Regions from separate parts of the Homo sapiens genome. Here regions 1, 2 and 3 are each reported to be linked to region 4. Evidence: microRNA targets listed by miRTarBase, many of them from high-throughput screens and not tested one by one. Region 4 holds a microRNA gene; each other region holds the end of a gene's coding sequence.

Region 1 (7,120 bases), not on the chromosome of region 4:
TGAGGAATTAATTCAAAGAGACATGGTAGACCCACAGATGTTGCTTTGGTGGGAATCTGATTCTACAAAGTCTGTAAGCTGAGCTGCTTTGGACGTGGCAGAAGAAGGGTTGGCTCTTCAAGCAAGTTCTTTTCAGGACCCATCCCAACCCACCCGAGTATCCAGTGTCTTGCGCATCTGTGAGCTTTTCATGTAGTTGCTGAGTCACGTGAAACAGGAAACCTTTTCCTGCGACTTACTGTTGTCCTTCCCAACCACTGGGACTCAGTTCTCTTTGTTTACTCTGCAGGTAATGGGTAAAGTGCCAACCATATCCATCAACAAAACAGATGGCTGCCATGCTTACCTGAGCAAGAATTCCCTGGATTGTGAAATAGTCAGTGCCAAATCTTCCGAGATGAATGTCCTCATTCCTACAGAAGGCGGTGACTTTGTAAGTTTCTTGATCTCTTTAGTATGATGTTAAAAACAGAAGGGACTGAAGATTTCTGGCATTGAAGAAAGCTATTTTATGAACATTCTGCACTGAGCAGGTAAAAACCCAATAATGCACACCAAAAGTACACAGAAATGAGGTAGTCCCATGTAGTGGAGCCCCAAAGGTAGGTGCTTTCTGCCTAAGTGGAGCTCAAGGTAGCAAAAAATAATGGGGATGAGCCATGGCACCTTGTCAGGCTGGTGCTATAAAGCCATATGTACTGTTATTTACACCCCATAGACTTAATAGTCTGTCCAAGATCGCTGAACACTAGAACATAGCATGGCTCTGTGGGTTTGTCTCTTGCTACATTGTACCGTGCTCCTGGGGTTAAGTGGAAGCAAGCATTGGGAGAAATGTGTGAGATTTAGCCCCAGCTGTTCTTTAGCTCAGATTTAAACCTGCTGTCTCTTCTTTATTTGCAGAATGAATTCCCAGTTCCTGAGCAGTTCAAGACCCTATGGAACGGGCAGAAGTTGGTCACCACAGTGACAGAAATTGCTGGATAAGCGAAGTGCCACTGGGTTCTTTGCCCTCCCTTCACACCATGGGATAAATCTGTATCAAGACGGTTCTTTTCTAGATTTCCTCTACCTTTTTGCTCTTAAAACTGCTTCTCTGCTCTGAGAAGCACAGCTACCTGCCTTCACTGAAATATACCTCAGGCTGAAATTTGGGGTGGGATAGCAGGTCAGTTGATCTTCTGCAGGAAGGTGCAGCTTTTCCATATCAGCTCAACCACGCCGCCAGTCCATTCTTAAGGAACTGCCGACTAGGACTGATGATGCATTTTAGCTTTGAGCTTTTGGGGGTTATTCTACCAACAAACAGTCCATTGGAAAGAAAACAGTCCCTGGAATTAACAGATCAGAATGTTCACACTGGTTAATCTTTTTTTAACAATGAGCATGAAGGTAGCAGAAGCTGGTGTGTTTCCAGATGGTTCTTCTAACCAAACTAATTTTTCACTGTTGACAAGCGAGGCAAGGGTTGCACTGGACCAAAGGCTGAGGCTTGGCCATCTAGCATTCCATACAAAATTGTTTCCTATAAGCATTCCTTTTATTCTCTATTCTATCCTGGGTCTGCCTCAACCGTGAGATAGGAGAGTCTCTGGTACTAGCTGCTGTAGCAGTGCCCTTCATCCAGGGCAGTTAATGGAGTCTTGGACCCTTTCTTTCTCTGGGATCCCTGCCCAGCACCTTCCTATAGAGATGACTTTAAAAGGAAAAAAAAAAAAAAAAAAACCCACATGATTTCAAGGAGTCTGGCATTCCTGAATCCTTCTTCCCTGCCAGGTGCCTGTCACCTGTCTTCACTGCCTCCTTTTCCCTGTCATGCTCATCAGCTTATGGCTTCTGTCTAAGCACCTGAACAGAGGACTGAAACCTCCACTGCAGGCTGGTTTTAGGTCTTGAATTATGTAAGAATCTTGCACAGCACTGCTAATGTAAATTTCAGTTGTTTTTCCCTCTAGGACAAACACTTACCAAAATATGCAACTTTTTTTTGGTGGGAAGAGAGATTGTCCTGTGATTTCTACCCATTTCCTGAGGCCTGTGGAAATAAACCTTTATGTACTTAAAGTTATACAGAAAATAGAATAAAGTTAATACCAAACTTGCTTAGTTGTTTACCTGTGATATTGGCTGTACAGAAATGCAAAAAATACTGAAAACACCAAGGATAAGAAACTACTCTTTATTTTAGACAACCTCATAAAATTATTTTCACATCCCCCCCAACTTCTTGCTCTTAATCCTCATCTTTTAGTTGAAGAATAAGGCTTAAGAGAGAGAAAGGAAAAACCATAATGGCTAAACTTAGCAGCACCAACACGGTTCTTTCATCAAGGCGTAGCTCATCATTTCTCCAAACTGACATGCTACAGAAATGTCTTCCAAAAAGCGTTAAGTTTTCACAGAGTGGGGACTATGATTTCCATGCTCAAATAGTGTAGGAAATGGTAGATTACGTTAGTTTTGTTTACTGTAACAGGAATTCTCAGGAGTCCTTAGACACTCTAATGTGGGTTGATCTCCAGAAGGAGAAAGGGAGTGTGTAGTATTTTCCAAGCTTTTTGAGCAAACAATCCTTTTCTCATGGAACACATCAGAAACAGTTTGGAGTATGCTGGTAAATGTGTTTTGGGGATGGAAGTCAGAAAGCCTGATCTTTTTCATATGGTTCCTCCTATTCTCTGCTAAAGCCAGCAACAGAGTAAGTTGACTCTAGCATCAAGACCACTAGTCATATTAAGAAAGGGCAGGTTGGTCGAGAATGGAATAGGAAGAACTAGCTGCCTCACTTTTCACTTTCGCGCCTACATTTTCTTCGCTCCCTAAGTTATACAAGATGTACATTTCCTCTCTTAAGCAACTTAATTTGGGTGCTACTTCCCTCCTTTTGTGACAGCAACTAATTCATCACTACCTGAGGAGACAAAGTGGGTGCTGCAGAAGCAAGACTGTAGGCCAGTGGGATTTGTCTAATAATTGATGATAAGATGATAGCACAGAGGGCAACGTACTGAGAGAGGAAGGCAGCCTTAAGAAATGATGCAGAAATAGCCAAGCAAGATTTTTCCAAGCACTGGTTAAATCACCAGCAAAACAAAGCATTTATGTGAGTACCTCAGGCCTGGGCACCTCTTTGCTTGAAATATGGCAAGACTTGGAAAAATGTTTGCCCTTAGAATCTATCTCACTACTTTAGTTAGTTGTCTCCTTTGGGCCTGGGCACAGTTCTGGCACTGATCTGGAACAGACTCCCTTTTCTAAAACTGAACTTGACCACATCAAAAGTTTGTAAAACAATCTCCATGGTAATTAAACTTGCATTCAACACCATATGGTAACAGAAGATGGCAAAGGATAAGATTCAGATCTTAGATCTTTCCAAGTAGGGCATGTTAGATGATAGAAGGATTAGTTGCAAGCTGGATCTGAGCTCAGGCTTGGGCATGAAGGAAACTGTCTCCCATGTGGTTTGGAAGAGTTAGGGGCTCCCTGAGCTCTATTGTGAACTATACGGGTTTCATCCAAGGAATGGTATGATGTGGGCATAAAACCATTCTTCAGACAACTGAAGATGGTCCCCTTCTGTAGCCAGAAACACTAGCTGTCCTGCATTGTCCATTTCCTTTAGCCCCAGGCGGTCCTGCAGAAGGAAAGGCCATAATTAATTAAAAAGCTTAATGAAGTTTTGGAGTAAAATGGTAAGTACGTTAACTTGAGATATATTTTCAAAATGCAGTTTGTCCTGAGTATTAAAATTGAGGTGTATTTTCAAAAATGCCAAAAAGAATATCTCCTACTTCTTTTTCTTTCTCTTTTTTCTTTTTCTTTCTTTCTCTTTCTTCCTTTCTTTTCTTTCTTCTCTCCTCCCCCTCCTCCTGTCCCCCCCGCTTCTTCTTCTTCTTCCTCTCTCTCTCTCTGTCTCTCTTTCTCTTTCTTTCTTTCAAGACGGAGTCTTGCTCGGTTGCTTAGGCTGGAGTGCAGTGGTGCGATCTCGGCTCACTGCAACCTCCACTTCTCTGGCTCAAGCGATTCTCCTGCCTCTGCCTCATGAGTAGCTGGAATTACAGGCGCATGCCACCATGCCTGGGTAATTTCTTGTATTTTTAGTAGAGATGGGGTTTCACTGTGTTAGCTAGGATGGTCTTGATCTCCTGACCTCAGGTGATCCACGTGCCTCGGCCTCCCAAAGTGCTGGGATTACAGGCGTGAGCCACCACACCCGGCCAGTTTTTTCTAAGTATTAAAAATAGATATGCAATTGAGATTGCTCTATACAGTGTTCTAGATTCTGATTTTTGAAAAGCTCAGAGTCAGAGGACTACCTATAGGTGGGCAAGCCATAGACGACACTGCCTCAGAATGCCATAGGTAAGTGGGACTGAGCCAAAGACAGAACATTAGCTAGGTAACTTAAAAAACATCCAACCCAGGACAGGCGCGGTGGCTCACGCCTATAATCCCAGCACTTTGGATGGCCAAGGCAGGCGGATCACCTGTGGTCAGGAGTTCAAGACCAGCCTGACCAATATGATGACACTTTGTCTCTACTAAAAATACAAAAATTAGCTGGGCATGGTGGCGGGCACCTGTAATCCTAGCTACTTGGGAGGCTGAGACAGGAGAATTCGCTTGAACCCGGGAGGCGGAGGTTGCAGTGAGCTGAGATCATGCCATTGCACTCCAGCCTGGGCAATGAGCAAAACTGTCTCAAAAGAACAAAACAGAAAAACCATATCCAACCGTTAGGTAACAAACCCTGGACACTTTCATATTCTGGAGTTGAAAATGTCATTACCCATAGCCTAGATGCTGGAGAACAACCTCTGGTTGGGAAGATAAGCAGTTACGACAGTGCCAGAATGGTGCTTCTGCCGTGGCCAACATCATTTTGAGTTTTCACAGTAAGGAAGTTCTTAGCTGTAATTTCTCAAGCCTTTTTTTTTTTTTTTCTCAAATCAGATTCTAGCTTCCCTTTTTACCTCACCACCCAAGTTGAGGCACCCAGTGCAAAAGAAAAGCCAAGCCAAGAGGAGACAAATGACCTCTGAAATAACATGGAGGAATTCTAGTAGACGGTGATTGGTTCAGATGTAGTACTTAGCATTTTGGAGAGTCTGTCTCCAATATAAAATCCTTAGGGCTGGGCGTGGTGGCTCACACCTGTAATCCCAGCACTCTTGAAGGCTGAGGCAGGTGGATCACCTGAGGTCAGGAGTTGAAGACCAGCCTGGCCAACATGGTGAAACCCCGTCTCTACTAACAAAACAAAGTATTAGGCATGGTGGCGTGTGCCTGTAATCCCAGCTACTAGTGAGGCTGAGGCAGGATAATCGCTTGAACCCAGGAGGTGGAGGCTGCAGTGAGCTGAGATCACACCATTGCACTCCAGCCTGGGTGACAAAGCAAGACTGTCTCAAAAAAAAAAAAAAAAAAAAAAAAAAAAAAAAATCCTTAAAGTGTAGAAGGCCCCAGAACTGGAGGTGGCAAATTACTGCAACTTCTGCTTAAGATACAGGACCTACTGCTAAACAAAATTCAAAACTCTAGTCCCACTCAACCTCCTGCAGGAGCCTCCCTTGTCAGTGCGTAATTTAGAAACAGGATTTCACATCTATTAATGTTTAAAAGTAATGTCCCTTGGCCAGGCGCACTGGCTCACGCCTGTAATCCCAGCACTTTGGGAGGCTGAGGTGGGTGGATCACCTGAGGTCAGGAGTTCAAGACCAGCCTGGCCAACATGGTGAAACTCCATCTCTCCTAAAAATACAAAAATTAGCCAGGTGTGATGGCACACACCTGTAATCCCAGCTACTAAGGGGGCTGAGGCAGGAGAATTGCTTGAATCTGGGAGGCAGGGGTTGCAGTGAGCCAAGATTGCTCCACTGCACTCCAGCCTGGGTGACAGAGCGAGACCCCGTCTCAAAGAAAAAAAAAGGAATGCCCCTCATCATGCATGGAGGCTTCCTGGATTTGTAGCAGACTGTACCTCAGCCAAGGCAGCTAGTTTTAAAACCTTTTTATCAAAAGAAGGGAATCAGACATGAGGTTTCTCTTGTTGTTTGGAAACCATAAGGTTTCAGGATGTAGTGGATTTTTGTAACCCAGTGCCTAATAAGCTAGAGCACATAATCAAGAGCCTAACAAGCTTCACCCATATTGGACATGAGTCAGGTGTTTCAGGAGTACCTAGTGCTCTGAGGTGTAAAGGAAAGGGCTCCAGCACCAAAGAACATAGCAGCTTCAGGAACTGGGAGCTGAAAAAACACCAACCTCCCAAGATAGACTCCCTGCCAGTTACCTGTGTGTACAGGGAGGTCTCCTGTAAGGGAATGGTTTCCTTGGCTTGGCCACTTCTGTAAAATCCAAACCACTGCAGAAGAAGCAAAGGAAAGAAGCTCAGATATGACACACAGCACATACTGCCAAAATAATTTGAGACTGGTTAGAAGCTAAAACTGCCAACAAAGTGAACATCATAAAGCTGTAGGAAGAAGGAAAAATGGATAGGGTGCGTCTGAGTCATCTCTTCTTAAGGGTGGAGCCCGAGGGATGAGTTAATCTTTCTGAGAGGCCGCTTTCCACTTCCCCAGAATTTCTGCTTCCTAAAATTATTAAGCAATAAATGTGAAAAATTCCTGTGCTGAGCTCTAGACATTCAAGGATGAATACATAATCTGTTTCCAAAAAGCTCCCAGTCTTGCAAGGCACGGAAACAATTCACTGTTGAGTACAGAGGTCAGCAAACGTTTTTGTAAAGGCCAGATACAAAATATTTTAGGCTTTAAGGGCCATATGGTTGTAACTACTCATTGCTGCCACTGTAACAAATGCAGCCACAGACAGTATGTAAAAAGTAACTAAAACTGTTCCAATAAGGACACTGAAATTTAAATTTTACATAATCTTTATATGTCCAAATACTTGATATGTCTAAATAAATTTTACATAATCTTTATATGTCCAATTCTTTCCCCCAACCATTAAAAAATGTTAAAAACATTCTTTTATGTTAGTGTTTGGTGTTACTCGTGGGTAGCACCAAAACGGGTAGCAGGATGGACTGGGCCTGTGGGCCACAATCGGCCAATCCCTGGTGGTGTGACATAACGTGATGAGTGTTTTA
Region 2 (7,120 bases), not on the chromosome of region 4:
GAATATGAATTATTCGAACAGCAGGCAGGGTTGGGCCTGCCGTGCGTCCTCTGTACGGCCTCTTCCTGGCGGTGCTGCTAGAGATGTCCCCAGATCCAGGATCCTCGGCAGCGGCAAAGCCCAGGAGGGATGTTTCCTGCAAAATTCTAACACCAACGGGTGTGCAGCCTGCAGAAAAGTTTGCTTTTGTTTTCAGCTGACCTCACGCTGTCTTCTTCTAGCAGAGATTGAGCAAGAGCACCAGGAGGGGACAGTCCCAGGAGGGCTGGGGTGGTTGCAGCCCGAACATTCCATGGAGCCTCCAGGAGCTCGCCAGAGGGCAGTGGGCTCCCGACGCCTTGACTTTTCCTCTTTCGAGATTGTTGTAGATTCCATGCTGTTGGGTGCAACACTACAGAGACCCCACGTGCCCTTTATCGGCTTCCCCCACAGGGAAGCTTGGGTGAGCCACCCTCTAAGACCACAACACACGCCATCGCCGCACGCAGGACACACGCCATCGCCGCACGCAGGTTCCCACTCCCCTGCACTCGTGTGTGTGTGGCATGTTTAGTTTTATGTCATATATATATATATATATATATATATATAAATTTTTTTTTTTTTTGAGCCAGAGTCTTGCTCTGTCGCCCAGGCTGGAGTGCAGTGGCACGATCTCGGCTCACTGCAAACTCAGCCTCCTGCATAGCTGGGACCACAGGTGCCTGCCACCACACCCAGCTAATTTTTTTGTATTTTTAGTAGAGACGGGGTTTCACTGTGTTAGCCAGGATGGTCTCGATCTCCTGACCTCATGATCCGCCCACCTCGGCCTCCCAAAGTGCTGGGATTACAGGCGTGAGCCACCGCGCCCGGCCTATGTCATATTTTTTATCGTGGTGATAAACATAAAGTTCACCACTTGAGCTATCTGAAGTGTGCGGTTCAGTGGCTCTCCCATCACCACCCTCCACCTTCAGAGCCGGTCATCTTCCCAGCCTGAAACACTAAGCCAACAGGATTCTTTCGCACGTGCAGACTCGTGGCCCCACCGCCAACACACAGGGTGATGGTCTGAGGACCCTGGCATGGCCCTTTTGTGTCCACGGCTACCTCCACCCTCCCGCCCTCCTCAGCCCGAGGACCGCCAATCCATTCTCCTCATCGTTTCTGGAACACTCTGTAGAGGGAACCATCGTGTGTGACCTCCTGGCACTGGCTCTCCCCGGCTTGACACCTGCGGTCCCCAGGTGGACGCCATGCACGCAGAGCTGCACCCCGCCCCCGCCAAGCACTGCCGCACCCCGCGGCTCTGCAGCCTCTTTAGCGGCACCAGGACAGGTCCCCGGCACGTGTGTTCACTGATGAGACGCTCCGGTTGCCTCAGCATGTCTGCCCTTCAGGCCTCCATCCCGGGGCCAGCGCCGACCCGGGCACTGCATACAGACAAACGAGGTCTCTGTTCTCCAGGAGCTTAGGGCGGGGGGGCGACGGCGGCTAACGTGAAGTGTGGAAAGTGCGTGCACGAGAGGGTGGTGGGCCCAACTGTGCAGAGCCTGGGCGCGTGTGGCTGTCTTTGGCTTTTTGACTAGAGGGCATTTCACGGGGTGTCTGGGCAGGGCACTGGGTCACAGGGATCAGCAACACCAAAGCCTGCAGTCCAAGGAGTGGCCTCAGCATGGCTCAGACATAGGAAGGGGCAGTGGGGCTGGTGCTGTGGGCACCAGGGACTCCCAGTGAGGGGCCTGGCTTCCTGGCACAGCCACAGGGGAAGACTGAGGGGCCCGGGCACCAAGTAGGGGAGACATTAGCAGGCCACTGCCATCGTCCAGAGCGGGGTGGAGGTGACAGGCATGGCGGGACCTGGGGTGGACCCGAGGGCAGAGCTGCTGTGCTGGCGAGGTGAGGAGGCAAAGGCCCCACGCGAGACTGAACTCAGTATAGCACGTGCGCCGGGAAGCACACACGACCACAAGATGGGAAGGGAGGCTGGGAGTGGAGGCTCACACCTGCAGTCCCAGCACTGTGGGAGGCTGAGGCGGGCAAATCGCCTGAGCTCAGGAGCTCGGGACCAGCCTGGCCAACATGGTGAAACCCTGGCTCTACTAAAAATACGAAAATTAGCTGGGCATGGTGGTACATTTCTGTAATCCTAGCTATTCAGAAGGCTGAGGCAGGAGAATCGCTTGAACCTGGGAGGTGGAGGTTGCAGTGAGCCAAAATCGCGCCACTGCACTCCAGCCTGCATGACAGAGCAAGACTCTGCACCACCCCCACCGCCGCCAAAAAAAAAGATGGAAAGGGACATTGCTTGGGGTCAAACAACGTGCCCCCAAATCCACATCCACAGAACCTCAGAATATCACTATTGGAAATGGGGTCTGTGCAAATGTAACTAAAGATCTCAAGATGGGACCATCCTGGGTTTAGAGAGGCCCAAATCCCACAACTGGCTTCCAGAAGATAAGAGGACAGACACACAGGGGGAAGTTACATGAAGACAGGGCAGGGACGGGAGCCTTTGCCACTGCTAGCCGAGGATGGAGCAGGAAGGACCTCCCTGGCCTTGAGAGGCCTCACCCCCGACAAACAAGAGAATCCACTTAGGTTTTTTTTGTTTTTTTTTTTTTTTTTTCTTGAGACAGAGTCTCACTGTGTCGCCCAGGATGGAGTGCAGTGGCGCAATCTTGGCTCAAGTGATCAGGGGTTCAAGCGATTCTCCTGCCTCAGCCTCCTGGGTAGCTGGGACTACAGGTATGGGCCACCACCCCTAGCTAATTTTTACATATTTTTTAGTAGAGATGGGGTTTCACCATGTTGGCCAGGCTGGTCCTAAACTCCTGACCCCAGGTGATCCGGCCGCCTCGGCCTCCCACAGCGCTAGATGACAGGTGTAAGCCCCCATGCTCGGCCAACTTCTGTTAAGTCACCCGGTTTGTGGCACTTTGTCATAGCAGCCCCAGGAGACTAATAAGGAATAGATAAAACTTCATTTTCAAATGGACACACTACGTTTTCCTACAGCGCTGCTGTGGAGCTGGGCTTCTACAGGGGATGCTCAGGGCAAACCCCTCCTCGCCCGTGTCCAAGTGGAAGGTGGCAGGGCCCCAGGGCACCCAGACTCCACCCCACCTGGGCTGCGGCAGGAGAACTGCTTGAACCCAGGAGTCGGAGGTTGCAGTGAGTGGAGATCGCGCCACTGCACTCCAGCCTGGGTGACAGAGTGAGACTCCATCTCTCTCTCTCTCTCTCTCTCTCTCTCTCTCTCTCTCACACACACACACACACACACACACACACACACACACACACACACACACACACACTGAGTTTCAGGCCAGGCGCAGTGGCTCATGCCGGTAATCCCGGCACTTTGGGAGGCCAAAGTGGGCAGATCACCTGAGGTCAGGGGTTCGAGACCAGCCTGGCCAACATGGTGAAACCTTGTCTCTACTAAAAATACAAAAATCAGCCAGGCGTGGTGGTGCAGGCTGTAATCCCAGCTACTTGGGAGGCTAAGGCAGGAGAATCGCTTGAACCCAGGAGGCAGAGGTTGCAGTGAGCCGAGATCGCACCACTGCACTCTAGCCTGGGCGAAAGAGTGAGACTCTGTCTTAAAAAAATAAAAACAAAAGTAAAAATAGTTTAAAACTAGGAGCAGCCTGAAGGCTCCTCATGCCAGCGCCATCCTCCGTGCACCTGCCAGCGCTTACTGACGCCGTCTCTGGGTCAGGTGTTCTGAGGCTGCTGGGGATACACAGAGACCCTGTGTCCAAGGCAGCCCACACATGCTGACTGTGGGGGGGTTGGCCTGCACCCGCGGTCCCTTCCGTAACTAAAGACTGCGGTGTCGGCCGCCTCAGGCATGGCTACTAAAGACCCGCACAGACGGCCACATAGTGTACACTCCAATTACAGGATCTGTCTGGAAGGCAGGTCCCTGGGGACAGAAGGTAGACGGGTGGGTGCCCGGGGGAGGGGGAAGGCGGGTTCACGCTAACGGGCACAGGGTCTGTTTTCGGGGTGATGAAAACGTTCTGGAATTTGCAGTTTGACAGTTGCACAACCTTCTGAACATACAAAAAAACCACTGAATTATATAAAGTGGTGAATTTTATGGTATGTGAATCATATATCCCATTTGAAAAGCAGACTGACAAAAATTTGTTTCTAGGCAGGAAACAGGAAACTGGGGAAGCCAAGTGTAGCTTTACCCTACTCAGGGAGAACAGTGTTGGAGAGAAAGCTGTCAGCTTTTAGAACGCGATGGCAAAAGCTGTGTGTGTGGCAGGGAGAAGTCTTGGGGCTTTTTGCAGCAAGGAAAGTTCTGGGCAACCTTCGTGGCAGTGACTCCCCCTCTGGAGCCTCAGCTTCAGCAAAGGACGAGGGCATGTCCCCAGAGCAGCCACAGTCAGGCCCAGATCAAGGTTTCAACCCACGGGGAGGCTGGGCTGGGGGCTCCGTGCAGGGGTCGAGCCACAAGGCATCTTGAGCCTCCCCTGCAAGAGCATCAAGATGAAAGCCAGGGATAATTAACGCCGTCAGGCCTGGGGCGACTCCACAAAATCCTTTGTGGCGGCCTGAAAGAAAAAGCAAATAGATGCAAAACCCATCTCTGGTTTCTAGGATAGAAGGACCTTTGAAATTATAAGACATTAAAATAAAGCTTCGGGTAAAAGGACTGTCATGTTCTAGCTGCAGATTTGATGTGAGATCAAAACGGAATTGCTCCTGAAAGCCCAGGCACCGGCCTGCTGTGCAAAGCGCGCCCCACCCCAGCGTGCAGAGACGCGGCCCCGGACCCTTGCGGCTCATCTCACCTGAGGCTGCCGTCTCTCCTCCAAGGGCTGGGGGTCCCCTTCTGATCATCCTTCTCTGCTTCTTTGTCCCCTCCACTTTTTTTTTTTTTTTGAGATGGAGTCTTGCTCTGTCGCTCAGGCTGGAGTGCAGTGGTGTGATCTCGGCTCACTGCAAGCTCCGCCTCCCAGGTTCACGCCATTCTCCTGCTTCAGCCTCCCGAGTAGCTGGGACTACAGGTGACCGCCACCACGCCTGGCTAATTTTTTTGTATTTTTAGTAGAGACGGGGTTTCACTGTGTTAGCCAGGATGGTCTCAATCTCCTGACCTTGTGATCCACCAGCCTCGGCCTCCCAAAGTGCTGGGACTACAGGCATGAGCCACCGTGCCCAGAATGTTCTGTTTTTGTTTGTTTGTTTGTTTGTTTTTTGAGACAGGGTCTCGCTCTGTCACTCAGGCTGGAGTGCAGTGGTGCAATCACGGCTCACTGCAGCCTTGACCTCCCAGGCTCACATGATCCTCCCACGACAGCCTCTGGAGTGTCCCCTCCACTTTCTTTCTTAGGGGCCCCTCAGGGACATGTCAGAGGCCTGAGACTACTTGGGGGATGTCTATGGGCCAGGCAGGCTGCCAGCAGCTGAGCTGTCCTTGCCCTGGGGCTCCTCTGCAGTCAGGGAGACACCAGGCATGGGCCTGGCTTGGATGCATCAGTACTTGACTGCAAAGACTTAAACCACAGACAGGAAAGGCGCTGCTGCAGTCTCGACGGTCAAATGCAGGGCCCCCTCAGCTGCCATCCCACTGAGGGGCGAAGGCCCATCATCTCCCTTCGGCTCGGTAACTGCCTGGCGTAGCACAAGGGTTCTCTTTAAATCCCCAGCAAATGGAGCTGAGTGGAAATTCCGCCCCATATTACCAGGCACACGTCTCCTTCCACTCCTCACTATACCCTGCCCATGCCACGGCCGCCTTCTGAGAATAACGCTGACAGTTCCATGGCCCACAGCCCCTCTAGTTAACTTGCTGTGCACACGGCAGCCCAGCCAGAAACACGCAGCCAGGTCGGATATTGGGTGCATTCAGTCGTGAAGCCTGAGGCTTCCTGGCTCCCACTGAGCACAGAGAAGTGTTCTGAAGGACAGGAAGCAGCTGGCCTCACTGCTCTTCTCAGACGGCTGATGGAGAAAAGCTCACAGCTGCCTGCGCCGCTCTGCCTGGACTTGCATCCTCGGCCCCACCCCTTGCGCAGCAGTGAGGCCCCCCGAGACACTGGTGCCTGGGCTTGCGGTACCGCAGGGCTGCTGGACAACGGGCCAGACGCAGCCCCAGTGTGGATCCAGAGGTCTCTCTCCGTAGCAAGCCATGGAAGCACGACGGGCACTGTGCTGAGAACCCTGGTCTGCACTTCTGACCTGGGGCTCTGGCTGTGCGGTTCTGCTGAGCTCATCCGAGAGTCCACGCGTGCATGGCGGAGACCTGAGTCAGCGGCAGGGCCACCCCGTTATGGGCACCCCAACCCCTTATTAGGGGTGTTAATCAGCACAAATGAGCAACTGGCTCATCAGTCGGTGCAGGCTGACAGGTGCAGGAAATACGGAGGGCAGGCGGGGTAGGGGGCACGGAATGCTTCCCAACATGAGGGCATCTCAGGCCAGCAGGCGGGGCCCAGAGACCCAGAAGCACCACAACTCCCCCGTGTCCACAAGGCACTTTATGCATTCAAAACCACCGAATTCACACCCAGGTTTGCTCAGACAGAGGCCCAGAGGCGACCCCGCTCTGGCGTGGCTACCACCTGAGCGGCTGGCGGCCCTGGCCCAGCTCGGCCTCCGCGTAGGCGTCATACAGCACCTTCAGGTGCAACAGCAGCTGCTCCAGGTTCTCGCCGGTCAACGCCGACAGCACGATGACCTCCTGTCCCAAGTGATCCCGGAGCTGGGACAGATTGGCTTGGGCTTCAGGGAGGTCAATCTTGTTTGCGACGATTGCGTGGGGCCTCGCAGACAGGCCCTTTTCATACATCTCCAGTTCATATTTTAAATCGTCAACTTGAGTCCACGGCTCAGGCTGAGAAAGATCCACCACGAACAAGAGAAAGCGGCAGCGCTCGATGTGCCTGAGGAAGGCGGACCCCAGACCCCTGTTCTGGTGGGCGCCTCGTATGATGCCGGGGATGTCGGCCACTGCAGGGAAGACAGGGGCACACGAGGTGACCACTTGGCACACCCAGCACCCAAGAGCGCCTTCCACCTCGAGCCTGGGAGAGAAGGCCTGGAGCCCACTGCGAAGGCGGATTTCCTGAGTTCTAACACTTTCCTTTCAAGGAACGCCTTGAACTGAAGC
Region 3 (7,120 bases), not on the chromosome of region 4:
TGGATGTACTCTGCAAAACATGGTGCCAGAGCACACCTCACTGCCTGTGTTTGGGTTTGGCTTGTTTTTTTATCTGTTTCCTTATCAGTGGTAAGCTAAGAGATTGTCCCCAAATGCACAGGCAAAATGTAGATTTCCACAGGTCTCATCCTGAAGTGTTTCTACTTTTAATATGAGTTTCTCACATGGTTGTGACTCCTGATTCCTTCACCTGTAGGGAACTTGTGTTGGGACAGGTACAGCTTTCAGCATCAGATAATGCTCTGATTCTCAGTAAAAGCTTTAGTTGGAATAGACATCCTGTAAAATGGATCTGGCCTGATCTTTAGATTGTAAATGGCCTTAAATAGCTGTGTGACATTGGTGGGCTTCACTCTTCTTTGTGCCACCCTTTCCCAAGCATTCATTGGCCCCTGTGACCTGTGCCTGTATCCATGTGACCCAGTCTGTCTTCTCTCTGCAGTGCCGTATTCACCTGGACCAACCTGCTGGTGGTGGTGGTGGAGCTGGATGGGCTAGAGCAGGATGCCCTGGACCTGGTGGCCCTGGTGACCAACGTGGTGCTGGAGGAGCACTACCTGGTCGTGGGAGTGGTGGTCATCGTGGACCCAGGGGTGATCCCTATCAACTCTCGGGGTGAGAAGCAGCGCATGCACCTGCGGGACGGCTTCCTGGCTGACCAGCTGGACCCCATCTATGTCGCCTACAACATGTGAGCGCAGCACACCGGCCCAGGTGCCGGAGATGAATGAGCCCCAGCAGTCCAAGGTGTGATGTGGGAAGACACCGCAGAGCTCACTCACCGGGACTCGCCCTTCCTGTGCTCTTACAGATCCCTCTCAACAATCCCCGCATCTCCTTTTAGAAAGCACTTCCTGAATTATTTAAAGAAATATTTTGAATCTGCCAAGTACATTTACAAAAACACGGATGCTGGTATTTTAACAGATGGAGAGACAAGGAAAGGAAAGGAAAGGCCTGGCATGGGCATTGTGAGGAATCACAGGCACCGAGGTTGTTCTCTGCTGTACTGCAAGTTTGCACTTTCTTTAGGCTAAAAATATAGTTCCTGATTTTTAAAATTCAGTTATTTATTCCCACTTCAAATGACAAGTTCATATATAGAATTTACGGGAGAAACTTGAGACCATTTACGGGGAGAAACTTGATTCTGGGAAGATAGCAGAGTACAAACCAGCTGCCTCACTTCTGTTTCACAGGGAGGCTGATGGAAAAAGGAAGCAAGCTGGACCCATCCTCCCTGCTCACAGAGGGCACTGTGGTCACACACAGTGCCTCCTCTGCCAGTTCCTTTATTGAAAGAGGTGTGCTGGCTGGCCACGGTGGCTTACACCTGTAATCCCAGCACTTTGGGAGGCCGAGGCGAGCAGATCACGAGGTCAGGAGACCGAGACCATCCTGGCTAACATGGTGAAACCCTGTCTCTACTAAAAATACAAAAAATTAGCCGGGTGTGGTGGTGGGCGCCTGTAGTCCCAGCTACTTGGGAGGCTGAGGCAGGAGAATGGTATGAACCAGGGAGGCGGAGCTTGCAGTGAGCCGAGATCACGCTACTGCACTCCAGCCTGGGTGACAGCACGAGATGCCGTCTTAAAAAAACAAAAAAGAGGTGTGCTGCTTGTCAGCATGTATTGTCACGGACACTCAATAAGTGCCATTTTGGACTGTCAAATTTAGATGCTTTGTTTCAGAAAGATAAGCCAGCATTTAGTTTTAAATCACTTTCCTGGTTTGTAACTTGATGCTGTTTAGTTAAATTGCTAGTTTTCCTAACACTACAATATTAATTCTTCTCGTGGAAGTGTACTGATTTATTATTTTTATTCCAAGTCAGCAGATTTGGAAGCATTGTGGTAAAGTCTAAGGTTTTCATATCCATAGTGCTGTTTGGTGAGTACCGGCAGTACAGTTGAGGGGAGCAGGGAACAGCATTGCCCCGTATTGAAGGTGGAGATGGTTACATTCTTCACTGCTTTTTGCATTTTGAGTTGTGTGCCTATAAAATTTGGCCAAACCATTTTATTATTTTGTTCAAACTTGACTAAGCTGAGTGATCTAAAATTATACAGAACCTAAATCAAAGAAGAGAATGTAAAGTCCTTTAGTTACTTCTAAGAATTTGAAGTCAAGCACGAATCTAAGACATAGATTATTTTTATATAGCTAATGAAGAGTATGTTACGAAATTGTTGGGTTTTTGGGGTATTGAGGGTGGCAAATTTTGTGAATCATGCATGCTTCACAGAAACAACCAGGTTTTTCCAGAATTAGTCTGGATCAGTGCCTAACAAAGCTGTTATTAATTCTCCACACATGAGTCTGGCTAACTGGGCCAGCTCTCATGTTTTACTCCTGTCTGGCTACAAATAGCACTGTGCATAGTAGCCCTGTTTCCCCATGGTGTTGGACTGTGGTAAAGTATGTTGTGACATACTGGAATTCTAATAATCCTGTTGTAAGTATGTACAGAATCTATGTAACTTATTGTTGACATACAGAGGTTTGGGAAGTAGTCTAATGGACATTCCTTACAATAGAATGGCTGGGAAGGGAAAGAAAAAAAAAAAAAAACTACCTAACTCCAATCTTAATGTTGTAGTTTTATAGCAAACAAAAATTGTCAGCTTTTTGTATTGAAAGGTCAGTGGTGGTAAGACAAGGTGTCTTGTAAATTAAGATTTTAAGAAGTGCATTAAAATGTTTTAGAATTACTCTGGGAATTCTGTATATCACACTAAAATTTTTATATCATTATGTTAATAAAAGTTATTGACTTTGTAATTCTGCATTTTGAAATGTGTGAAAAGGGTCTTTAAATTACCCCGAATAGGTTGTATCTTATTTTGCTTTTTTTCTGACTATAAAAGCAGTTATGCTTATAGCATAAAATCTAGAAAGCACATTAAAGTATAAAGAAAATTAAAATTTCTTATAATTCTACCTCTGAGTAAACAGCAGCATTCGTATGTAACATAAACCCTCTCAGGGATTTATTTTTTCTTTTTAAAAATTTTTTACAAAATTAGGATCAAGTGCTTTTTTAAATAATTTGCTTTTGTACTTAATAAATTATAGACTTTAAAATCTATTACATATATTCTTCTACATGTTTCAGTGGCTGTATTTTACAAGTGTGCCATGAGTAAATGTAGTATTTGCTGTATTGCCGTACATCAGCGTTGTTTCAACAGGACTGCAGTGAGCCCAGATGCACGTTTACACTGCCATGATTACAATTACTGCCTTGGGCTCAGTTCTTATAGGTAGAGTGAGTGGGTCAGAGTTCATGCCAGGTGTGAAGCTTTGGGTACCTGCTGCCCTCCAGAAGGGCAGGATGACAGCATGGAAAAGGCCTCTTTGCAGATGCCAAGTAATGTTGGCAATGGACATGTGCTCAAGATTAAAATAACTCTTTAACAATTTGATAGGCAAATAAGTGTTGTGTCTGGTCATGTTGAATATGTCCTCGTGTTCATGGCCATTTTTAGTTCTTATCTGATGTATTTTGTTCAGATTTGGCAGTCCTTATGGTCAAGTTTTTTCTTACTGACATGTAGGAGTCTCTTTCTATTAAGAATTATAACCTCCATATACTTCTTACTTTTTCTTGTGGGTTATTTGTATTTTGGTTCTATCTGTTTTGGTGCAGATGGTTTTTTAGATGTTATATTTATGCAAACTGGTTATTGTGTTTGATTTCAGATTATGAATATAGCTGATTTATTTCAAAGTGGTTCTACTGGAATGATCAGCATAAACCAATGGGGAGTACATGGCAGAGAAATAACTAACCTCCAGTATTTGCCTGGTTCCTGCCACAGTGCTGGCCTTCATGTTGGCAGTTCCAGAAGTGGGGTTGAGGGAGAGAGAGAATACTTGAAGAAATAATGGCTGAAGACTTCCTAAATTTGATGAAAGACCTGAATATAAGCATCCAAGTAGCTCAACAAATTCCAAGTAAGATGAACTCAAAGAGACCACACAGATACCAACATTTCAGAAGCCAAAGCCAGAGAATTTTGAAAGCAACAAGGGAGAAGCAACTTGCTACATACAAAGGATCCTCAGTAACAGGTCCCCAAGCCCTGGGCCACAGACTGTTAACAGTCTGTTAGGTACCAGACCACACAGCAAGAGGTGAGTGGTGGGTGAGTGAGCATTACCACCTGAGCTCTGCCTCCTGTCAGATCAGTGGTGACATTAGATTTTCATAGGCATGCAAGCCTTCTTATGAACTAACTGCACGTGCCAGGGATCGAGGTTGCACACTCCTTATAAGAATCTAATGCCTGATGATCTGAGGTGGGACAGTTCCATTCCAAAACCATCGTCCTGTGCCCCCTGGTCTGTGGAATAATTGTCTTCCACAAAACCAGTCGCTGGTGCCAAAAAGGTTGGGGACTGCTGCTCAATAAGATTATCAGCAGATTGCTCATCAGAAACTAGAGGCCAGAAGGTAGTGGGCCAATATATTGAAATTTAAAGTAGTTTTTTCTAATTCTGTGAAGAAAGTCAATGGTAGCTTGATGGGGATAGCATTGAATTTATAAATTATTTTGGGCAGTATGGCCATTTTCACGATATTGGTTCTTCCTATCCATGAACATGGGATGTTTTTCCATTTGTTTGCATCCTCTCCTATTCCCTTGTGCAGTGGTTTGTAGTTCTCCTTGAAGAGGTCCTTCACATCCCTTGTAAGTTGTATTCCTAGGTATTTCATTATCTTAGTAGCAATTGTGAATGGGAGTTCACTCATCATTTGGCTCTCTGTTTGTCTGTTATTGGTGTATAAGAATGCTTGTGATTTTTGCACATTGATTTTGTATCCTGAAACTTTGCCGAAGTTGCTTATCAGAGTAAGGAGATTTTGGGCTGAGATGATGGGGTTTTCTAAATATACAATCATGTCATCTGCAAACAGAGACAATTTGACTTCCTCTTTTCCTATTTGAATATGCTTTCTTTCTTTCTCTTGCCTGTTTGCCCTGACCAGAACTTCCAATACTATGTTGAGTAGGAGTGGTGAGAAAGAGCATCCTTGTCTTGTGCCGGTTTTCAAAGGGAATCCTTCCTAGTTTTTGCCCATTCAGTATGATACTGGCTGTGGGTTTGTCATAAATAGCTCTTATTATTTTGAGATATGGTCCACCAATACCTAGTTTATTGACAGGTTTTAGCTTTTAATAATAAAGTTTATAATGTAAAAAATAAAAAATTTTTAGAGAAAAAAGTTTATAAAGATGTCTAAAAATGTTTTGCACAGTTGTACAATGTGTTTTAAGCTAAATGTTTTTACAAAATAGCCAAAAACTTAAAAACATTTGAAAGTTTATAAAGTTACAGTAAGCTAAGGTTAATTTATTATTGAAGAAAAATTATGTTTAGTGTAGTCTAAGTGTACAATGTTTATAAAGTCTATAGTAGTGTACAGTAATGTCCTAGGCCTTCACATTCATTCACCACTTACACCCAAAATAACTTTGAGTTCTACCAGCTCCATTAATGGTAAGTACTTACTATGATTTGAGTGACCCCCAATGTGGCAGTATTAAGAGGTGGGGCCCTTAAGAGGTGATTGGATTAATCTATTCAAGGATTGATAGATTAATGGATTATCATGGGAATGGGGCTGATGGCTTTGTAAGAAGATGAAGACCTGAGCTAGCATGCTCAGCGCCCCCACCATATGATGCCCTGCACTACCTTGGGAGTCTGCAGAGAGTCCCTACCAGCAAGAAGACCCTGACCTGATGTGGCCCTCAACCTTGGACTTCTCAGCTGCTATAATTCTAAGAAATAAATTCATGTTTTTCTTATAATGTAGCCAATTTCAGGTGTTCTGTTATAAGCAACATACAATGGACTGAGTGCCCTGTACAAGTGTACTGATTTTAATCCTTTATACTGTATTTTTACTACCTTTTCTAAATTTGGACATGTGTTTAGATATACAAATACCAGTGCATTACAATTGCCTACAGTATTTTGTACAGTTACATGGTGGACAGGTTTGTAACCCAGGAGCAATAGGCTATATCATATAGCCTAGGTGTGTTGTAGGCTAGGTTTGTGTAGATACATATACACTGTATGTTGTTCCCCCAATGATGAAATCACCTAAAAACACATTTCTCAGAACATATTTCTGTTGTTAAGTAATGCATGGCTGTATGCACAAAAGGAAGTGAGAAAGGGATTTAAATGTTTCATTAAAAAAAAACACAGAAGGGCGCAATACAAGAAATGAAAGAGATATAAGGCATATAGAATATGAAGTGACAGAAGTAAGTCTCTCCTTATTGATAATTACTTTATCTGTAAATAGATTAAATGGACAGAGATTGGCAGAATGGGGAAAAAACAGGATCTAACTGTATGCTGTCTACAAGAGACTCACATCCAAAGACACAGTATTAATATATTGAGAGTGACAGGATGGAAAAATATATTCACTGGGCACAGTGGCTCATGTCTGTAATCCCAGCGCTTTGGGAGGCTGAGGCAGGTGGTTTTCTTGAGCCCAGGAATTTGAGACCAGCCTAGGCAACATGAAGAGACCACATCTCTACCAAAAAAATACAAAAATTAGCTGGGCATTGTGGCTTTCTCAGGAGGCTGAGGTGGGAATATTCCTTGAGCCTGATGGGTGGAGATTGCAGTGCACCAAGATCACAACACTGTACTCCAGCCTGGGAGACAGAGTAAGACCCTCTCTCACAAAAAAAAAAAAAAAAAAAAAAAAAAAAAAAAAAAAAAGATATTCCATGCAAATAGTAATCAACAGGGAGCAGAGGTAGCTATAATAATATAGTTTAAATAAAAAATGATTACAAGAAATGATGGACATTAATAAAAGATTCAATTCAGCAAGATGTAACAATTGTAAACATTTACACATACAATGACAGATCATCAAAATATATGAAATGAAAACTGACAATAGAAGGGAGAAAGGAGAAATAGACAGTTCTATAATAATAGTTGGAAATGTCAGTGCCCTGCTTTGAATAATGGATGGAACAATAAGACATAAGTAAGGAAATGGAGGCTTTAAACAGCACAACAAACTAACTAGATCTAACAGACATATGCAGAACAT
Region 4 (7,120 bases):
AGAGTACATAGGGCATGATGTGGATTTATTAGTCTGGTAGATAAAATGAAAAACCACTCAGGTAAGAACACTCACTCATGGCAGTTTTTAAGCATGAAAATTGTTTTCTGAAAGTATCATCACTTTTCCTTTTTAAAGAAGGCTGCTAATTGGATTTTGGTAGTTCTTACCTCAAGAAAACTTGAATTATTTGGGGGAAAGTAGGCTCAAAAGAGAATATATCTTTCACATTCACATTCAGAACCCAGCAACCTGGAGTCCAATTTTCAGTATTTTAACTACCTCAATAATGCTATGAATGTAAGATATTGGGATAGAGATCCCAACTTGAAACAACAGCCAGTGCCTGTGGTAACTTAATGTCTTGTCAAATACTTTTATTGATTGGTTTATATGCCATTCTTGTTATAGAAGAATATGCCTTTTAAAAAAGCTTATTAATAACACTTTCCCAATTTATATTTTAAAAAGCTAAAGAACACTGGATTAATAATCTTTTGGGAGGGTAGAATAAAATAATTGATTACTATTGCTGCATACCCGGGGTGGGATGGGGTGGTTGGAGAACCAGAACTATTTTTAAAACATTAGGTTTCAATATAAATACAACTCACAACTGCTAGCTTTGGGGGGTGGGGGAACATTGTGTGGGTTTTGTTTTGTTTAATTTATTGATTAGTCTTTAAAGTAGGCTTTTTTTTTTTTTTTTGAGAATACTGGACCATCATTAAATGTGTACTGTGAAGAGATTAATATGTATGAAGGGCTTTACCAAAGTCCACTAAATAAACACTACTCAAGTACAGACTGCAAACCAAAATGTATCTGTGTTACGACATTAATTGCAAATAGCAAGTATGGTGCTAAAGTCTACACCAATGGAATTAGATGAGTGCTATGCACTTAATTTTAAAATAAAACTAGTTTTCAGTAAAATGGCTTCGGTATTTTTGTTTTAAATACAAACTTGTATATTTGCAGCTCTAGTGAACCATCTCATCATGTAATTCAGACTTGGAATCATGATTTTATTTACTAAAAGCCATCAAGATGTAGAATATAGCCATTAGTGGCATAAAACATCCGTTCATTGCGTATTCCATACTGAGCATTAAAGCCCACAAAAGTATATTGGACACCACTGTTGCCTTTTTGAGCTTAAAATCAGTTGTTAGTATGTTAGCAACTACAGATTCTAATTTATTCAACAATCATGCAAGCATCAGAAAATCTGAAGTTTGATGTCAAAAGTAGGGACACAGAAAATGGTTAAAGCTATGAGAAGGAATATAGGGTCTACAGTGAGTGAGAATGGTCTATTTACCTGAGTATAAATATCATTTGCTACTTAATTCAACTCAAACCTTAGCAGATGGAATTTGTTTTGAAAAGTAAAATTTAACAGGTTTGTACAAGCGGGTTAGGAATTTACACTGCCTTTTTAAAAAACATTTTTGAAATTAGTCTCAAAACTATCGTATTGTCACTTGTTCTGGCACAGTGCCAGGGTTTAGCAGCCCTCAAGAGTTAATATACCATGTTCTTTAGGGCTGACTTTAAGAAAAAGAAAAAGCATTCCAAACCAGGCCAGGTAGCTTTGCCTTGAGGTGATCTGAGCCCCATGTGGCAAGTTTATAACCAACAACTGCCTCTCAGGCACGTGGTAAAAGCCTCCCTAGCCTCAAGCAGCTTACATCTAGTTTGATAAATACGACTAGCACACTTGCAGCAATTAGGCTAGTAGAGGCCCGCACGGTGGCTCATGCCTGTAATCCCAGCATTTTGGGTGGCTGAGGCCAGTGGATCACTTGAGGCCAGGAGTTTGAAGCCAGCCTGGGCAACATGGTGAAACCCTGTCTCTACTAAAAGTACAAAAACTAGCTGGGTGTGGTGGCACGTACCTGTAGTCCCAGCTACTTGGGAGACTGAGGCACAGGAATCACTTGAACTCAGGAGGTGGAGACTGCAATAAGCTGAGATCACACCACTGCACTCCAGCCTGGGCAACAGAGCTAGAGTCTGCCACTAAATAAAATTAGGCTGGTGTAGTCTGGAACTCGGTTTAATATCGTGTTAGTTTAGGAATCACTCAACATTCATTTTTCAATCCCTTAGATTTTAAAGTAGCAAGTACAGTCAGTTGACAGCATAAGGACCAGGCTCAGGGATCATATGGGAAGGACACCTGCTATCCTATCCTTGCCTGACTACCACTCTGTTTCCTCCCATAACACCCTCTGCCTCCCAGGTAAGCATCACCACCCTGAATTTATTAGTTCTTAAGTCCATGAAGCCTTGACATGGTATGCAATTTATATGTAAATGATTTCCCCTATTCTTAAAGTTTTGTCTACTCAAAGGGACCTGTAATTAAAAATGTAAGAGTGACTGTCTTGTATCCATTTACTTGCTAGTTTCTCCCTACTAGAACCTTGTGTTAGGCCGTTCTCGCATTGCTATAAAGAAATACTCAGGACTGGGTAATTTATAAAGAAGAGAGGTTTAACTGGCTCATGCTTCTGTAGGCTGTACAGGGAGCATGGAGCTGGCATCTGCTTGGCTTCTGGGAGGCCTCAAGAAACATGGCAGAAGGGTAAGCAGGAGCAGGAATCTCACTTGGTGGGAACAAGTGGGGGTAGGCGAAGGTGCCACACACTTTAACCAGATCTCACATGAAGTGAACTCACTATCACAAGGACAGCACCAAGCCATGAGGGATCCGCCCCCATGACAAACACCTCCCACTAGGCCCCACCTCCAACATTGGGGATTACATTTCAACATGGATTTGGGTGGGGACAAATATCTAAACTATGTCAAACATATCTTCCCTCTGTCTGCCAGGCTGGAGCGCAGTGTTGCCATTATGGCCCACTGCAGCCTCGACCTCCTGGGCTCAAAAAATTCTCCCACTTCAGCCTCCTGAGTAGCTAGGATCGTAGGCATACACCACCACATGCCTGGCTCATTTTTACAATTTTTTGTAGAGGTGGGGGTTTGCCATGTTACCCAGGCTGTCCTTTTTTTTTCTTAAGATTTTTAATTTTAGAACAGCTTAGATGTACAGAATTATTACTAAGATAGTACACAGAGTCCCCATATAGCCCACAGCCAGTCTCTCTTCTTATTAATATATTGAGATGGTACATTTGTCACAATGCACCAGTACTGATGTACTATTACTAACAGAAATCCATGCTTTATTCAAATTTCCTTAGTTTTTCCCTAATATCCTTTTTCTCTCCCAGATTCCTATGCAGGATATCACATTACCTTTAGCACTCAGGTCTTAGGCAACTCTGGGTTGTGACAGTTACTCAGACTTTGTCTGTGATGACCTCGACAGTTCTGAAAATCCGTGGTTAGGTATTTCATAGAATGAACATATGTTTCTTGAGAGCAGGGATTTTGTCTTACTCATCTTACGCCCCTGTGTGTGATAGGGATCTGATGTATGATAGCACATCATAGGCTCTTGGGATGTAGGTAACAAAAAATTGGCCAGCACGGTGGCTCACACCAGTAATGCCAGCACTTCTGGAGGCCAAGGTGGGTGGATCACTTGAGCTCAGGAGTTCAAGACCAGCCTGGCCAACATGGCAAAACCCCATCTCTACAAAAAATAAAAAAACTAGCTGGGCGTGGTGGTGTGTGCCTGTAGTCTCAGCTACTTGTGGGGCTGAAGCAGGAGGACTGCTTGAGCCCAGGAGGTCGAGGCTGCAGTGAGCCATGTTTGTGCCACTATACTCCAGCCTGGGTGACAAAGTGAGACCCTGTCTCAAAACAACAACAACAAAAATGCAGTGTAAAAGTAGGCAGTGACTAATAAACAAATGCTGCCTTGGGTTGATTTAAAAAGTAGAGTACTCTGATCATAGGAAGGCACAGTCCCATCAGATTCAGCACTGGTTAGATCGTATCTACAAAAATCTTGTGAACTGAATTTTAAGTGGAATGGTGATAAACCCAAGTTTTGCCACAAGCTGGTGATGGGTCCAGGAATCATGTTATATGAGTAACAACTGAAGGAACTGGTGGTGTTTTCACCTGGGGAAGCCTAAGGAAAGGTAAAATGCTTGTCTTCCCAGATGTGAGAAGTCCTATTACTGCAAAGGGCAGAATTAAGTCAGTGGTCCAAAGTTTCTCACATTTCAATGAATAATAAGCCAGAATGTTACAAACAGAGTAGTGCTGCTTTGAGAGTTCCTGAGTTCCTAGTTAACAGAGGCCCCTGACATAGACCAGAAATGGGATGGAAGTAATCCTTGAACTTGGGTGTAAACATCTTCCAATTCTCAAGAGCTTCTGAAGCTCTAAAGAGTTTCTGAAGAGTTTCTAAAGGTTTTATGGACCTGGGACTTGAGCTGGGTGTAGAAAGAAGGGAAAAGCTTCAGCTAGACTAGGGCAGTCATCACCCCAGTGTTGGCACAAAGCAGACTGCACTAGCCTGGCTGAAGCCCTTCCCTTCTTATATTCTCAGCTCAATTGTTGGACAGTGAGGGCAGACTCATTGAGAAGTTGTAGAGGAAATAAAGTTGAGTGAGTAGAATGAGGTTGAGTTACGGAGTTTTGAAAGCCAGAAGAGAATACAGACTTTGTGGGGTCAGAGATATCGCTGAGGATTTGTGATATGATACTGGTGATTTTAGGAAGAATGATGATTTTAGGAAGATTGGTTTTAGAAAGAATAATGATTTTAGAAAATGGTGGTTTTAGGAAGAATGATCTGACAGTATCAGGGTAGGTTAGTAAGAGAAGATGGGAGTCAGAAAGCTTTCTGCAATAATGACAAATTGAGTAAGAATGGTACATGGATATTTAATGGTACAAAGGTAAACCCTAAGAAAGAAAACAAAATTGATAGAATTGAGGGATAGAATAAAGGAAAGGAAATATACTAATTCTGTTATTACTTATAAAAGTGAATTACAGATACTGAGATACTGGCTAAATAGAAAACAGAAATACTGATTATACAATCTGTATTACAAAGTTAACTACAGGAACAAAAACACAAAGCTTTCTAATTATGAAAAGAAGGAATAAAACAAAGCAAACTTTCCATATAGTAAACTATACTTTAAAGGTATAAATAGCAAAAGTATAACAAAATAATCTGACAGAACTAAGTCCAAACATATCAAATCAATAAATGAAAACAAACTCAACTATTAAGGGAAAAAGAACTTCAGACTGAATCACAAAGTGAAACTCAAATCTATGTTGTATGAGAGACAGGTCTAAAATAAAATGATTAAGAAAGGTTGAAGATCAACGAAAAAGTAGAGATACCAGAAAAACTCAAACAAAAAGCAAGGATCAAGATCTTAATAACAGACAAGGCTGAATTTTGGCCAAAATGTATTAAACCAAATTTTAAAAAGGGCACTTTATAATGCTAAAGGTTACAGTTCATGATAAGGATGAAGTTATTAATACTTCTGGATCAAATAACTGTAGCAATATTATGCACAAACTATAAAGGTTTTACAGAGAAATAAAAGAAAAACATGGGGCAGGGTGCAGTGGCTCACGCCTGTAATCCCAGCACTTTGGGAGGCCGAGGCGGGCGAATCACGAGGTCAGGAGATCGAGACCATCCTGGCTAACACGGTGAAACTCCGTCTCTACCAAAAATACAAAAAGTTAGCCGGGTGTGGTGGCGGGCGCCTGTAGTCCCAGCTACTCCAGAGGCTGAAGCAGGAGAAAGCTCCAGGAGGCGGAGCTTGCAGTGAGCCGAGATGGCGCCACTGCACTCCAGCCTGGGTGACAGAGCAAGACTCCGTCTCAAAAAAAAAAAAAAAGATGGTAGGTAAGAAACTAATTTATTTCTCTAAGTCCATGACAGATCAGTAACATTAAAAAAAAAAAAAGCAAGGATATACAAAACCCTAACACACCATTATGGTTCATCTAATGGACACATATTAGATATTCTGAGAAGGAAATGGTGCAGACCTGGAATAACAAAGACGGCAGAGAAAACAAAGTACACCGCCAGATGTACAGAGATAGCCTGTCACGCATGCCAACAGCAAAATTCTGTCTTCTAAAGAGTCCTTAGATAACTGAAATTGCTTTCTTTGTTGACCCATCTAGGTGCCTGAGATCAGAATATCCTTACTGGCCTCTTTGCTAGCTACCAGCTAATCTGCAGCTTATCTAGAGAAAATAAAATTCATGGTTTCCAAACTGCAAAAACACTTCCACTTTTGCCTTTGTTAGATGAGGTCAATCCATTACTGGATTTCACTTTACACAACAGTATACTAATAACTGACTATATTTCTGTAAGTTTTCTTGGATAATATCAAACTCTAATGTGAGGTTTTACAAAACTTGACTATGTATTAATCCACCAAAAAACTGCAACAATTCCAAAAAGTAGAATTACTACAGAAGACATATTCTGATGAAAATGTGACTAAAAAGAAATATGTAATAGGACCAAAGAACTCAAATAATCTTTAGGTCAAATAAGAAATCGAAACTGAAATTTCAAATTATCTAGAAAATCACTTGTAACAAAAATTCTACGTATCATGAGCTCTGGGATAAAACTAAAGCAATGCTCAGAATAAAATTAACATCCAACTGAAAAAGTCTAAGAACAAGAAACCAAACAAAAGCAGGAGGAAAGAAATAAGACAAAAGCAGTAAAAATGAATTATAAAAGGGAAAAAGAAAAAAACTAATACCTACCTATACATGCAATACAACTAAACAAGAGAAAATAAAATACAGTTTAAACATTGGGAAGGAGGAGGTAAAATTACAACTATTTGCAGAATCAATGTATACCTGGAAATGCAAGGTAATCAACTGAAAAACTATCACACGTGATAAGGAAATTTAGTAAATTGGCTGGCTACACAATTAAAATAGCTCTCATATATACAAACAACAACCAATTAGATTTAATGCAAGATATACTCAATTATAATGGCCACCAAAATAAGACAAAATGGCAATAAATACAACACATGCACAAGATCTACATAAAGAAAACTCTAAAATACTTATGACACAAAAGAAAGTTGCACAAGGCATACCATATACTTTTATAGAAAGTGTAAACTTTATAAAGATGTCAATTGTCCTTAATCTATAAATTTAACAT

What was found. The annotated mature microRNA hsa-miR-3157-5p reads UUCAGCCAGGCUAGUGCAGUCU and lies in region 4 at 4,435-4,456, opposite strand. An mRNA with a match to its seed (bases 2 to 7 or 8) in the 3' UTR can be bound and repressed. Matches are read on the target gene's strand: a 7mer-m8 pairs with bases 2 to 8, a 7mer-A1 pairs with bases 2 to 7 and ends in A, and an 8mer does both.
Region 1: miRTarBase lists CAP1 as a target of hsa-miR-3157-5p. Seed matches in the 3' UTR shown: 7mer-A1 at 1,143-1,149.
Region 2: the mRNA of MTG2 is a reported target of hsa-miR-3157-5p. Seed matches in the 3' UTR shown: 7mer-A1 at 4,987-4,993.
Region 3: the mRNA of DIP2A is a reported target of hsa-miR-3157-5p. The part of its 3' UTR that is shown has no 7-base or 8-base seed match.

What each region holds. Positions count from the first base shown.
Region 1 is chr1:40,070,547-40,077,666 of GRCh38, forward strand. It overlaps CAP1 (cyclase associated actin cytoskeleton regulatory protein 1), which reads left to right. Exons shown (of 13, transcript NM_006367.4): 12 at 290-433; 13 at 904-2,102. The coding sequence ends at 987. PPT1 (palmitoyl-protein thioesterase 1) reads right to left here. Exons shown (of 9, transcript NM_000310.4): 8 at 6,296-6,367; 9 at 2,166-3,637. The coding sequence ends at 3,515. Among named protein-coding and RNA genes, the nearest start is that of PPT1, 23 kb to the right of the region's middle. RefSeq lists an enhancer at 1-492.
Region 2 is chr20:62,200,523-62,207,642 of GRCh38, reverse strand. It overlaps MTG2 (mitochondrial ribosome associated GTPase 2), which reads right to left. Exons shown (of 7, transcript NM_015666.4): 7 at 4,075-6,960. The coding sequence ends at 6,566. Among named protein-coding and RNA genes, the nearest start is that of HRH3, 16 kb to the left of the region's middle.
Region 3 is chr21:46,566,907-46,574,026 of GRCh38, forward strand. It overlaps DIP2A (disco interacting protein 2 homolog A), which reads left to right. Exons shown (of 38, transcript NM_015151.4): 38 at 464-3,109. The coding sequence ends at 716. Among named protein-coding and RNA genes, the nearest start is that of S100B, 35 kb to the right of the region's middle.
Region 4 is chr10:96,059,935-96,067,054 of GRCh38, forward strand. MIR3157 (microRNA 3157) reads right to left here and starts at 4,465; the gene lies at 4,381-4,465. It overlaps CCNJ (cyclin J), which reads left to right. Exons shown (of 6, transcript NM_001134375.2): 6 at 1-936. All of the region lies in intron 2 of ENTPD1-AS1 (ENTPD1 antisense RNA 1), which reads right to left.